Regions from separate parts of the Homo sapiens genome. Here regions 2 and 3 are each reported to be linked to region 1. Evidence: microRNA targets listed by miRTarBase, many of them from high-throughput screens and not tested one by one. Region 1 holds a microRNA gene; each other region holds the end of a gene's coding sequence.

Region 1 (4,155 bases):
AATCAACCTCTGACCAAGCCGGGTTATAGTTTAGAAAGCTGGGGGGCTGCCAGCTGAGCAGGGTCTTTTGAGAGGCAGTCTGGTCCACTGGGCAGAGACCTGGACTGGAAATCAGAACATCTGGGCTCTGGGCCTTAAGCTCTGCATTCACCAGAGTGGCCTGGGGCAAGTTTCTTAGCACTGTGAGCCTTTGTTTCTTCCTTCTTAAAATGGAGAAAGTAATTCCTGCTATCTCCCTGCAATCTCAGGGAGCCAAGATCCAGGCACAAGAGCATCCAGGAAGGGGTTTGTTCCTTTCTGTAAGGAGTATACGGCTTAGCTCTGGGTGGTGGCACACCAGAATGAAATGACTCTGGCTACGACTGAGGGGTGAGATCCCAGTATCTAGGGATTGGGCACTCCAGGAACAACTTGCATTCACTGTGCCATATGCTTACAAATCACAGTCCCATCTATTTTATCATTTGAGCCTCATGACAACTCTGTGAGGTGGTTGTCACACCCATTTTAAAGACAAGGAAACTGGCCGGGCACGGTGGCTCACACCTGTAATCCCAGCACTTTGGGAGGCCGAGGTGGGTGGATCACCAGAGGTCAGGAGTTCAAGACCAGCCTGGCCAACATGGTGAAACCCTGTCTCTACTAAAAATACAAAAATTAGCCGGGCGTGGTGGCGCATGCCTGTAGTCCCAGCTACTTGGGAGGCTGAGGCAGGAGAATCGCTTGAACCTGGGAGGCAGAGGTTGCAGTGAGCTGAGTTTGCACCACTGCACTCCGGCCTGGGCAACAAGAGCTAGACTCTATCACAAAAAAAAAAAAAAAAAAAAAAAAATGAGGACACTAAGGCTTAGAATGGTGAAATGGCTTGCTCAAGGTTTCACAGCTGCTCCATGTGACAGGGTGGAGCGGGTGCCTGGAGCTAGGGCATGGTACCCTGTCACCTGCCCCCACAATCTGTGCCACTTCTGTCAACCACTGTGCTGACCATGGCAGGCACACCTCAGCTGGCTGCTTCCTGAGCCCTACCAGGAGGCGTCAGGAAGGTGCTGGTGAGGCAAGGCTGGGGAATGAACCACCACCTATCTCAAACCCTGACTGGGCACATGGCGCCTGGGCTGTATCTACAGAAGACTAAAACTCCAAAGGAATCTCGCCATTAGCGTTAGGGAGATAATCCTGGGACTGGTGGAAGGAGGAGACCTCTCTTCTCTAGGATGTAAACTGCAATAAGCCAGCAGCTCTTTTGAGGAGGACAATGGCAGCAGCAGGATGCAGGTGGGATGCTCTGAAATTAGGGGCACCCGTGAGGCATGCACAGTACTACCAATGTGCCGAGGGAGACCCCCAGGGTCAGACAGAGCCTCTTCTCAGATCTTGATTTGAACTTCCAAACCACCAAGATCTGCTGGTGCCGCCGTCCTCCTCCTCATCAGATCCCCCCATTCACCCCCAGCCCTGCAGGGCCCAGGTTCAAGCCCCGCTTCCCTCAGAAAGTGTTCTCTGACCATCAGGATCCAAGAAGCCTGGCTTCCCTCTGTGTCCCAACGTGATGGCTGCTGGCACCACACAGGAGTTGATATTGTTAGTTACCTTTTTTTTTTTTTCCTGAGACAGCGTCTTGCTCTGTTGCCCAGGCTGAAGTGCAGTGGTGTAACCATGGCTCACTGCAGCCTCAGACTCCAGGGCTCAAGCAATTCTGCTACCCCAGCCTCCTGAGTAGCTGGGACCACAGGCACACGCCATCACACTTAGCTAATTTTTAATGCTTTTGTAGAGACAAGGGTCTTGCTATGTTGACCAGGCAGGTCTCGAACTCTCACACTGAAGTGATCCCCTGACCTCCTAAAGTGCTGGGATTACAGGCATGAGCCACTGTGCACGGCTGATATTGTTAGTTACCTTTGCAAATAATTTTTTTAAAAAGAGTAACTTCAAACTGTTATAGTAATTTAGAGGTGACAAAGAATGTTTACAAACATCATCTCATGGTACCCTCACAACAACCCTGTGAGGTGAGTCTGATTCAGCCATTTCACAGATGGCGAAACTGAGTCTTAGGTCAGTGACATGCCCAAGGGCACACTCCTGGCACAGCTGGTACTGGAACCAGATCCGAGTTCACGTCCGAAGTTCCTTCCACAGTATGCACACCTCGGGGCCACAGCAGCTGAAGGCCCTTCCATAGGCTGTGGCTGGAGAAGGCGTGTTCCTCTGTTTGGGGTGGTGATAAGTAGGCCAAGGTGACGGGTGCGATTTCTGTGTGAGACAATTCCATTAACCATGTCCCTCAATCACAGATAGCACCCCTCACCTTGAGCCCAGTTTCACAGGTTGGCCAGCAAGCGGTCTTGGTTCAGGAACTCCATCTTAGTCTGCAGAGAAGGATGCAATGGCAGGAAGTGCCAGGCTATGAGAGGCACACAATATGACATGGGCGCAAGCTGGGAGCTTGTTCAGTCACCAGACACCTCTGATGTGTCAGTCTCTCTTCAGGGCTCCCGAGACACAGAAACAGACACCTGCCCTCGAGGAGCTCACAGTCTAGACAAACAAACCCAGGGTCCAAACAAATGGGACACCAACAGTGTGCGAGGACTGGGAAGGGGTGCCTGAGGTCTTCTGGGGCACTGGGAAGGCTTCACAACAGCAGGGCAAAGGATGAGCAGAAGGTGACCAGGAGTATGGAGAGAACATGCATGAGGGCAGGGGCGGGGCCCCTTTAGACGCAGCCCAGGGAGGACAGACTGAAGAAGGACAAGAGAAGGTGGATGGGTTACAACCCCATTACAACACTTCAGGGGAGAGAGTGTCAGGGGAGAGACGGTGAGAATATGCAGTGCAGGTGGTGAAAATGGGAGCCAGTGAGTCAGAGGGACCAGGGGCTCAGGCCAATGCACAGCCTTCACTGCTGGACATGGTCCCACAGGACCTCGATGCTGAGCTGGGGCCTGGGCTGAGTCAGGAGACAGGGCTCCAGGCACGGCAGCCTCTGGGTCCTGGTGTGTTCCTGCAGCCAGGGATGGATATACTGAGAGCTTATAAGGCAGACGATGTGTGGGTTTTTGGGGTCCAGAGACAAAGAGGCCACTTTCTGAATTTCCAACCTGACTAGATTCATGCAGTGGGAATAGCAGGACAGGCCAAGTGGCAGCTGACTGTTAGGACAGAGGCAAAAATAAAGCCCCGTGGGAGTGCAGGAGGGAGTGCAAAGTCACAGGGAGCGGGGCGGCTGGGAAAGGCTCCATCTGTGGAGCCACATTCTGACAGGACGAGTGAGATTTTAGAAGTGTGGGGAAAAGTGAGAGGGGAAGAAGGGCCAGGGGCACAGGAGAGCCTGAGTAAGAGTGTGACTGACGGTGCGACTTGGGTAGCTGTTGGCATGGAGGCGTACAAAGGCCCTGCCTGATACAACATCTGGAGCCCTGGGGTGAGAACAGGGGTGGGTCAGCAAAGAGACATATCCGGCTTTCAGAAAGTGGCCGCCAGAGGGCAGCTGGGAGCAGGCAGGAGGCCAGGGGCTTGCCGTCCTGTTCCCCTCAGGCAGGGCCATGCTGGGCCTGCTTTCTCTCAGGTGGCACAAGGTGTCAAATGGCCTCGGCAGCCAGGGAGATGAAGACAGTCCAGTACTTCCTTCTCTTTAGGGGAGAAAGAGGTAATTTCCAATGGAAAGAGGTTTACAAGAAGCAAAATTCAGCCCCACCTCCAAGAGCTATGAGGTTTAACAACCTTCCACTCCCCTCCAAAGAGCACATGGAGCTGGGCCTGACTCTTCCCGGGAAGGTCTGCCTGTAAGTCCCTTTCCGGGGCTCTTTCTCAACACTGTGCTGAAGGTGCAGCCCCTGGGCCACTGGGCATCAATGAAGGACATAAGAGGTTGAAAAACTGGGAAAACATTTATTATCCAGCACCAGGAGCTTCATATTTTGAAATATACCAATGATGTTATTACACGCAAACCAAGTAGGAAAAGGACATACATTATGCTCCAAGAGCCAAAGAGAACAAGCACTTCATCCTGTGTTTTAATTCGCCCGGATTCCCACTAAGCTATGGGGTTTTCCTTTTTCTTTTCTTCAGAGTCCCACTGTATAAAGTCGATGAAGAACTACTCTGGTTGCATCAGGGCGAGGACCCTGGTATACCTTGGTGGACCCC
Region 2 (4,155 bases), not on the chromosome of region 1:
GACTTTAGACAGTTCCCAGGTAAATCTTTCTAGTGATAGGAAAAAGATATTCTCCAAAAGCTCATTATCTGAATATTGTTGGGTAATAAGCTAGGAGAGGGATTTTCTACTTAAGTCTTAAAACCAAAGCCTTTATGATCTGCATGTAGTACATCACCTTATACTATAATTCTGTCACCACTTGCTTATCATATTTATAGACCCAGCAATGCGCAGAACACAAATTCTGACTGCCATTGAACATGGCCTCCTAGTCCGGACAGCAGCCAAATTAACATTCTAATCTTCTGCCAGCCCTTAGTCACCTTCTCTGGGCTGTCAGTGGCTGCTGTTTCCTGGTCCTGCCAAGTCACAAACCAGCCCCTGACATGCTTTCCCTTCCTTTGACCTTTCTTCTTTGGGTTTTAGCCAGAGCTGGGCTATTTGAGGAAGTTAAACTTCTGCTCCTCTCATTTGAGATGAGGGGTGGAAGAGCAAGTAGCTCTTCCAGACACTTAGTCAAGTGGATTAAAGATCCATCATCACCTTCAAGGTGACTTTTGTATCTAGATTTCATCCTTTTCTCATCACTAACCAGACTCCTTACAAGTGGGTCTGCATCTGCTTACTGAAGGCAGGTAATCCAGAAAACAAAAGAAAAAGAAATAAAAATCAAGGGGTTTCTCTTATAATGAAATATTTTGTGAAGCTGTATGTGGAGCACCATGCATCCCAAAAGACCTCTTCTCAAAAAAAAAAAAAAAATGCAGCCCCCAGAAGGCAGTGTTGGGGGGCCAGAGACCTCCACGATCAGGGTTGGGAGAGCTGGGTTTTCTTCCTAGCTCTGCAACCGTCTGTAAGCTGCATTGGCCCACGGCTGAGCTGAGTTTGGACAGGTGGGGAGAGGCTAAAGGAATTGGGGGTAGTTAGAGAATAAGAAAATGGTTGTACTGATGAGATGAGTTAGGTTAATGAAAAGCAGAAGAAAAAAATAATGTGATACTGAGGGAGGAACTGGGTGGTGGAGAGAGGAAGCTGAGTAGGTGACTGAACTTGCTTCCACCTCCAAGCAGCTGTTTAGCATGCCTCAGCTTTGGTCCTCTGCAGTATTCCAATCTATTCCTAGGGTCATACAAGTAGAGGATTCGAATTTAACTCACATGACCACTATAGACCAGAATTCACGTGTAAGTTGCAACTCTGCTGTTAAATCTCCTGAAATATCTTTCAGAGCTTTGGAAATTCTAATGTACCCCAAAGCTTTTTTGGAATTTCTCACCTACTAGAGGTTAATGTCAAGTAAACTTTGGGTCCTTATTAAAGAAGTTTGCAGAGTGCCAGCTCATCTTCCTCTGCAAGAAGATTGAGTCTGCTTATAGACGTGGTTGGAGAGATAGTACAACACAGGAAGGAAGAAGGGCAAACGAAAGAAAAAAGGAAATGATTTCAAAACCCAGTAAGAAGAGAAACCTCTTTATGGCTGAATTGGAATGAAAACGTTGCTGTTTTATAGCAATGGTGGGGTGAGAGGGACTAATTTAAACCTTCCTCTCAGGTGACTTTGGAACCACTCAGATAGGGCTTGGGAATGACGAATTAAAAATGGCTGCTTTGATTTTGCTGTTCAACTTGCGTGAAATGCCAAAGGTCAACCAAGGTCACAAACTGAGTATCTAGGATATAAGCTTTAAAGTAGAGGGGAATGCAGTCCTTTAAACTTACATATTGCTAGGATTAAATGCGATTGAACTAGTGGGCAGCAAATGATGTGAAGTCCATGGTGACAGAGCACAGGAGTATGACTACGTGGGTAATTTCAACCAACTCTTGGTGCCATAACGCAGCAGTAATGTTTGCAAGCATATTAACTTGGAATTTAAAAATTTACTCACATAGATACCCCATCACTTATTCTTTTATGTTGCCAACAAAAATCCATCTCTCTCTAAGGAAGTAATATTGTGTTCCGAAATGATAATACAATTTCCAGCTGGTCCCAACTTCCTGTAAAGAAACTTAATTTGGAGGTAAACCAGATATTCTAATTCCCATTAGAAAATTTAATTCTCTCTCTCAGTGTCTCTTTCTATAATCTACCATGCCAGGTGTTTGATGTCTTGGGGAAGGTAAGAGGGAGTGAGGGAGGAAATTGAAAATACTTATTTGAAATTTCCACAATCTGACTTTTAGAAAACATCTACGGAAATGGAATTCTTCATATTCATTCTGAGCCTGCTTAACATATTTTATTTGGGCTGTGGAAATGGATAATAGAGATGGAGTATCTGTCCACGCTAAACCAATGGCTAGAGTACAACTTGGATGAGAAATGTACAGCTGAAATTGACCATTTAAAAGACGATTTGTCACACACAGTTTGCATCCATGCAGACTGATAGATTTATAATTACATTATGTACAATAATGTTTTAGTTTATTAAGGCAACCACAATTTGGATACTTTGTCCAAGGTGGCTTGATAAAATTGAAGTGGTGATACCCTTTGAGCATTTTATTTATTTATTTTTCCAGATAAGAACACTTACTCCCATTTGCTTTTAAGAAATAATTATCAAGGGATAATGGACTTCTATTGTGTTTTTGTTTCCTTTTTTTTTTTTTTTTTGAACAACCTATGACAATTATTTGAATGAAAAAGATCAGGTACCAAGGCATTGCTAGACACTTGTCTTTCTGGTGGGTCTGGGGTTTCAGTTTTTGGTGGTTTGTCAGTTACTCTATTTGCTGTGGGGTATTTAAACCATTTTATTCTGCCTATGCTCTGCTGACATGTTTTAAGTATAAAAATAGCCTGGTTGACATCTGGGTCAACATATCCTTGGCTGCTCTGCATCACTTATTAAAAAGGTTTTATCAATACTGAGTATGTTTCACAACGATTGGGATTCAAACCCAGGTTCTTGGAACAGCATGCCAAGGGTGAACTTTACAGCACAGGTTAAGGATTACTTTATTTAAATGTGTACCAAGAAAAAAAAAAGGCAGCAAGTAAGTTAATGAAAAGATATATGGAAGTACAATGGGCAAAGGAAAAATAGGAATAGACAATGCTAAAAATCAGTGTATGTGCAATAGAAGAGGCACACAGAACATGAATGCGGGTCTGAGGTCGCCTATCACTAGAATTCCACCTTCTGATCACACAATTCCATCGAGAAACTGTACGGTTAAGGGAAAGATTCAGGTCACCTGAAGATGACGTTGGTACCCCAAAGCTTAGCAGAGCTTGAAAATCAAAAGAAATAAAAACCAATTAAATGGAACGGGTTACAGCAATGCCAGTTGAGCAATTTGCAGCTTTTCTCCCCTTGGAATGTTTCCTAATTGAGGGTGTTTCCCTTTCGATTTTCCTGGCCAGCAAATGAAATCGGGAGTCGAGGGCGCACCTTGGCAGCGTGAGGTCAGGAGAGTGCCACCAGCCTGCTCCTCCTGGGGGCCTTCCGCTCGCCTGCGGAGGATCCAGCCGTACTGAAGCGCCGCGTGGTGGGAGCTGCGGTGAAGCTCAGACAAGCTTCTTCTGAAGGTGTCTCCCTGCTTTGCTTTCCCAAGAGCTCCTGATGGCTCAGCCCCGTCGTCTGGCCGGATTCTGCCTGCCCGGCTTCTGGAGAGAAGGGCGTGGGTGTCCCTGCAGCGGGGGATTCCGCCCCCGCCCCGGCTCACTGCGCTTCCCACGTGTCAGTTCCCTAGGCCCCAGGTGCAGACGCCCAGACCCGCCCTAGGGAAGGACCTCGCTCTCACTCCCTCGGGACTTCCTCTGCCTTTTGGCTTTCACCTCCTCTTCCTGGGGAAGGGGCTGCTGCGGGGGCGACTGCTGTGGGGGCTGAGCGGGGGCCTGCGGTTTGTGTTTCCTCTTTCCGCCTCGGGGGGTCTTGGGTAGAGGGGGTGGCGGGGGCAGGGGTGGTGGCGGCGGTGGCGGCAGGGGCGGCGGCGGTGGCGGGGGCAGGGGCGGCGCCTCCCGGGCCATGTGGATGACCGCCTCGATGGTGGCCATGATGGTGTCTTGGCTGGCGGCGGGCTCCAGCACCAGCGGGCTCAGGCTGGGCTTCTGGCCTCTTTTGCTGGGCAGGTCGATGCATTTTTCCAGCACCGGCATTTGGTCTCTGGAGTCCTCATCGAACTGGGTGGGCTGCTTCCTGGGACGCCCGCGCCTCTTCT
Region 3 (4,137 bases), not on the chromosome of region 1:
CAGCCTCTGGGTTCCAGAAGTTTCCTAATGGGGGCTGCCCACTCCGAGGGAGGAGCTTCAGGACATCTGAACCAGGACCCCCGCACTGGACAAGGCCCCAGGCCCCTACATGTGTGTTCCCTGTGGGTGTGGTTGAGCGGTGGCGTGGCAGCTCCCTTGGGTCACTTGGGTTCCATTAAACGGCGTCTCCGTGGGTAAAGCTTGGTCTCCTCCTAAGCCCGGCCAGCCCGGCACTCAGATGGCCTCACCCTCCGAGCTTACTGTGGGGGGGCCTCACCCTCCGAGCTTGCTGCGGGAGGTTTGCAGATGGCTCGGGGACTGTGTGGTTTTGTTTTGCCTTGACTTAGGATGGTAATGGGAGGCACGTGCAGCACGGCTGAGGGCCAGCCTCAGACCCAGAAGCAGATCTGGGGCCAAGAGCAGCCTGCCCACCCCAGGAGGGTCCTTCCCTGGAGACCTAGAGGCGGGGGGGTACAGGGGCCGGGGTCGGCGTCCCTCCTGCTGCTGAGGACAGACGTCCGGGGAGCAGTTCAGCCACGTCGTGAGCCATGGGGTTCGGGGTGTCTGCCTCTCCCATGACATCTGGGCACCATGGGGTGGATGTCCACAGAGGCATCTCCCGAAATCCATGCGTGAGGAAGCTGGGCTCGCGGGCTGCCTGCTGCCTGAGTTCTCTGGGACCCTTGAAAAGGACCCATTGGCAGGTGCGTGGATAAAGCAGGACAAATCCACCACTCCCCACTCACTCGAGGTCCCCAGAGCCCTCACACCCACAGACCAGGAAGGAGAAGGACTGGGGAGGGACTCGGAGTGGGTGTTTAACGCAAGCAGGGCTTCAGCCCGGGAAGATGAGGAGGCTCTGGAGGTGACAGTGGTGGCCGTGAATGTGCCTGTGCCCCTGAACTGTGCACTTCAACATGGCTGATGGTGAATTTTCTCTACGTGTATTTTATCACCATTTTTAAAAATAGCAACAAAGAAACACTTGGAAATGAGGCGTAGACAGTGGCCTGTCCCATCCGTGCCAAGCCCCGGCATTTCCCAGCAAGCCCCCGGGACGTGCCTGTGCACCTGGCCGGCAGCCTGAGTGCAGCTGTGAGAAACGGGCACCCAGGTCTGCCCGGTCGAGAAGGTGGCACCTCCGGGGTTCGGGTCTCACTCGGCCCCCCCCTTCCCTCCTGCCCGCCCCACACCCCTGCCCACGCCCATGGGCATGAGTTAAAGGAGATTTGATACCTGCTTACTCTGTTTTCACTAAGCTAGGCTTGTTTACACTTGAGGATGAGGCATTTGGACCGCCTAACTTGGGGGGCCCTGGCTGTACCCCGTGGAGGAGCCCTGTCATCTCGCTGGGTGAGATGGGGTGAGAGGTCGCGTGAGTCGGGCGAGCGGGGTCAGGGTTGGGGTTGGGGTTATGTTTATTGTCTTAGTGCTTTGAGGGGAAGCTCAGCCGTCACTCATCACCCTGTACTTGGTGTCCCTCATGTCGGCTGGGCCTCCATGAAGCGGGGCGGGACAGGGTCAGCGTTTCCTCCCCACGTGGGCCTCGGGCTCCCCTGGGCCCAAGGAGATGAATACCCCAGGCCAATGTAAGGCGGGGGCCCGAGGGTCCCCTGCAGGGCCGGGAGGGCGGGGCCTGAGTCCTTCACCCCACCCAGGAGGCCGACTAAGTTGGGGGCACAAGGGTCCCCTGTAGGGTTGGGAGGGCTGGGCCTGAGTCCTCCACCCCACCCGGGAGCCCTGACAACAGCTGGGAGGGATTTTCCACAGCCCCTGCCCTGGAATGTTCCGCACCCTCCAGAGCTCCAGAGGGGCTCACCAGTCACACTGGGCGGGGCGTCGCGTGGCCCCACCTGGCGCCAGGACCCCGTTCTTTCTGCCCTTCAAGTTTTCAGTGTCATATTTCAAATGTCTGAGGGGAGAATAGTGAAGCCAGCACTCGCTCCCTGCTCTTCCCCAGAAATAGGTGAGCGGACGCAGCCGAGCCTCCATCCCTCCGTCCCCTTCTCGTCCTTGCAGCAGCCTCCGTAGCAGCAGCCCCACCCATGACTTAGGGACCCTGCGGCCCCACCTGGGAGTGTGAGGCCTGCCGTGCACCCGTGTGTCCCGGCCACCACGTCCTGGCCTTGGGGCGCCGCTTCACGTGGCGCAGGTGGGAATGTGCCACGGCTTATCCTCTCTTCTCGGTGAGGGGCCGCCTGCCGCTCACGTGCATGGTCAGCGCTGGGACGGGGGCCAGGGCCGTCTCAGACAGCAGGTGTCCCATCACACCGCCCCCAGCACACGCGCCACTGTCACACTGCCGACCACACCGCCCCCAGCACACGCGCCACTGTCACACTGCCGACCACACCACCCCCAGCACACGCGCCACTGTCACACTGCCGACCACACCGCCCCCAGCACACGCGCCACTGTCACACTGCCGACCACACCACCCCCAGCACACGCGCCACTGTCACACTGCCGACCACACCGCCCCCAGCACACGCGCCACTCACACTGCCGACCACACCGCCCCCAGCACACGCGCCACTCACACTGCCGACCACACCGCCCCCAGCACACGCGCCACTCACACTGCCGACCACACCGCCCCCAGCACACGCGCCACTCACACTGCCGACCACACCGCCCCCAGCACACGCGCCACTCACACTGCCGACCACACCGCCCCCAGCACACGCGCCACTCACACTGCCGACCACGCCACCACCAGCACAGGTGCCACTCACACTGCCGACCACACCGCCACCAGCACACGCGCCACTCACACTGCCGACCACACCGCCCCCAGCACACGTGCCACTGTCACACTGCCGACCACACCGCCCCCAGCACATGTGCCACTGTGTGGCTCGACATTTCCTTCTGTTTGTTTGAGATGGAATCTCGCTCTGTCACCCAGGCTGGAGTGCAGTGGTGCGAACTCGGCTCACTGCAACCTCTGCCTCCCAGTTCAAGCGATTCTCCTGTCTCAGCCTCCTGAGTAGCTGGGATTACAGGCACGTGCCACCATGCTCGGTTAATTTTTTTGTATTTTTAGTAGAGACAGGGTTTCACCATGTTGGGCAGGCTGGTCTCGAACTCCTGACCTCGTGATTCGCCTGCCTCGGCCTCCCAAAGTGCTGGGATTACAGGCATGAGCCACCGCACCGGGTCAGTGTTTCCATTTTTGCCACTGCAGTGCTGCTTGTCTTCAGGGGCTGAGGTGCCCTCCCCCCGCCCCAAGGAAGCCTCTGGCGCCAGTGCCTGTCTCTGAAGGAGAATGTGGGCCTTGCCTCCCTGCACCAGTCATACGCATGGCCCCAGTGGCTTGGCTCAGAGTCTGGCACTGCAGGCCGACTGCCTCCAGGCACAGCTGCAGGAAGTGTTCCAGGAGCGGGAATGGAGTGGGGTCTGCAGGAGTCCCAGGACCTGGGGGGTGCAGGGCTCGCACGCTGAGGACACCCACCTGCGCCTGTCTCTGGCTGGATGCAGCCACCCGTTGTCTCCCTGCAGCCCCAGCTGTAGGTGCTGGGGGGCCCTGGGGGGAGCTAGGTGGGTGGGAGTGCAGCTTCAGGGGTGGGAGAGTGGGCGGGGCCCTGGAGGCGCTCCTGGGGGCTGGCAGGGACTGAGCTGCAGACAGCATCAGAGGGGTGGGGGTCCCACAGGGTCGGGCAGGGGTAGTCCTGGGTGTAACCGGAAGCAGTTGCTGACCCTGTGGGGGTGGGGGTGAGGGTGGGAGTCCTCAGGGCCCTCCCAGAGCAGTCCGAGCTGTGGGGTGGGAGGAGAGAGGGTGGGAGGACCCAGGGCTGGGAGGGGAGTGGTCAGGAGGACCTGGGGGCTGGGGGAGCTCCTAGGGCCTGGGCACCGCACACAGGGCCTGGGCCCTCGGCCTCATGGTAAAAGCCCGGGCGGGCGTGGTGTCCAGGGAGGCCGGACTGACGCCAGGCGGGGGCAGCAGGCGGTACCTCTGCAGGAGGCCGGCAAACAGCAGGAAGAGCTCGGTCCTGGCCAGGCGCTCCCCAACACAGACGCGGCGGCCTGCGGGGGATGTCCAGGCACAGAGTGGGCTGCACCAGGCCTGCTCCTGGAGGGGAGGGGTGGGGACCTCCCCAGGGGAGCACAGGAGCAGCCACCACAGCCGCCTTCAGA

Evidence for each region. The annotated mature microRNA hsa-miR-342-5p reads AGGGGUGCUAUCUGUGAUUGA and lies in region 1 at 2,288-2,308, opposite strand. An mRNA with a match to its seed (bases 2 to 7 or 8) in the 3' UTR can be bound and repressed. Matches are read on the target gene's strand: a 7mer-m8 pairs with bases 2 to 8, a 7mer-A1 pairs with bases 2 to 7 and ends in A, and an 8mer does both.
Region 2: miRTarBase lists SETBP1 as a target of hsa-miR-342-5p. Seed matches in the 3' UTR shown: 7mer-A1 at 1,499-1,505.
Region 3: miRTarBase lists CYP2W1 as a target of hsa-miR-342-5p. Seed matches in the 3' UTR shown: 7mer-A1 at 3,760-3,766 and 7mer-m8 at 3,422-3,428.

Annotation. Positions count from the first base shown.
Region 1 is chr14:100,107,826-100,111,980 of GRCh38, reverse strand. MIR342 (microRNA 342) reads right to left here and starts at 2,326; the gene lies at 2,228-2,326. The region is part of intron 3 of EVL (Enah/Vasp-like); the gene reads right to left. It overlaps MIR151B (microRNA 151b), which reads left to right and starts at 2,467; the gene lies at 2,467-2,562.
Region 2 is chr18:45,063,259-45,067,413 of GRCh38, reverse strand. SETBP1 (SET binding protein 1) reads right to left here. Exons shown (of 6, transcript NM_015559.3): 6 at 1-4,155. The coding sequence ends at 3,716. Among named protein-coding and RNA genes, the nearest start is that of MIR4319, 95 kb to the right of the region's middle.
Region 3 is chr7:988,524-992,660 of GRCh38, reverse strand. CYP2W1 (cytochrome P450 family 2 subfamily W member 1) reads right to left here. Exons shown (of 9, transcript NM_017781.3): 9 at 3,021-4,026. The coding sequence ends at 3,839. It also overlaps a transcript of CHLSN not described here. Among named protein-coding and RNA genes, the nearest start is that of CYP2W1, 7.4 kb to the right of the region's middle. RefSeq lists an enhancer at 3,294-3,894.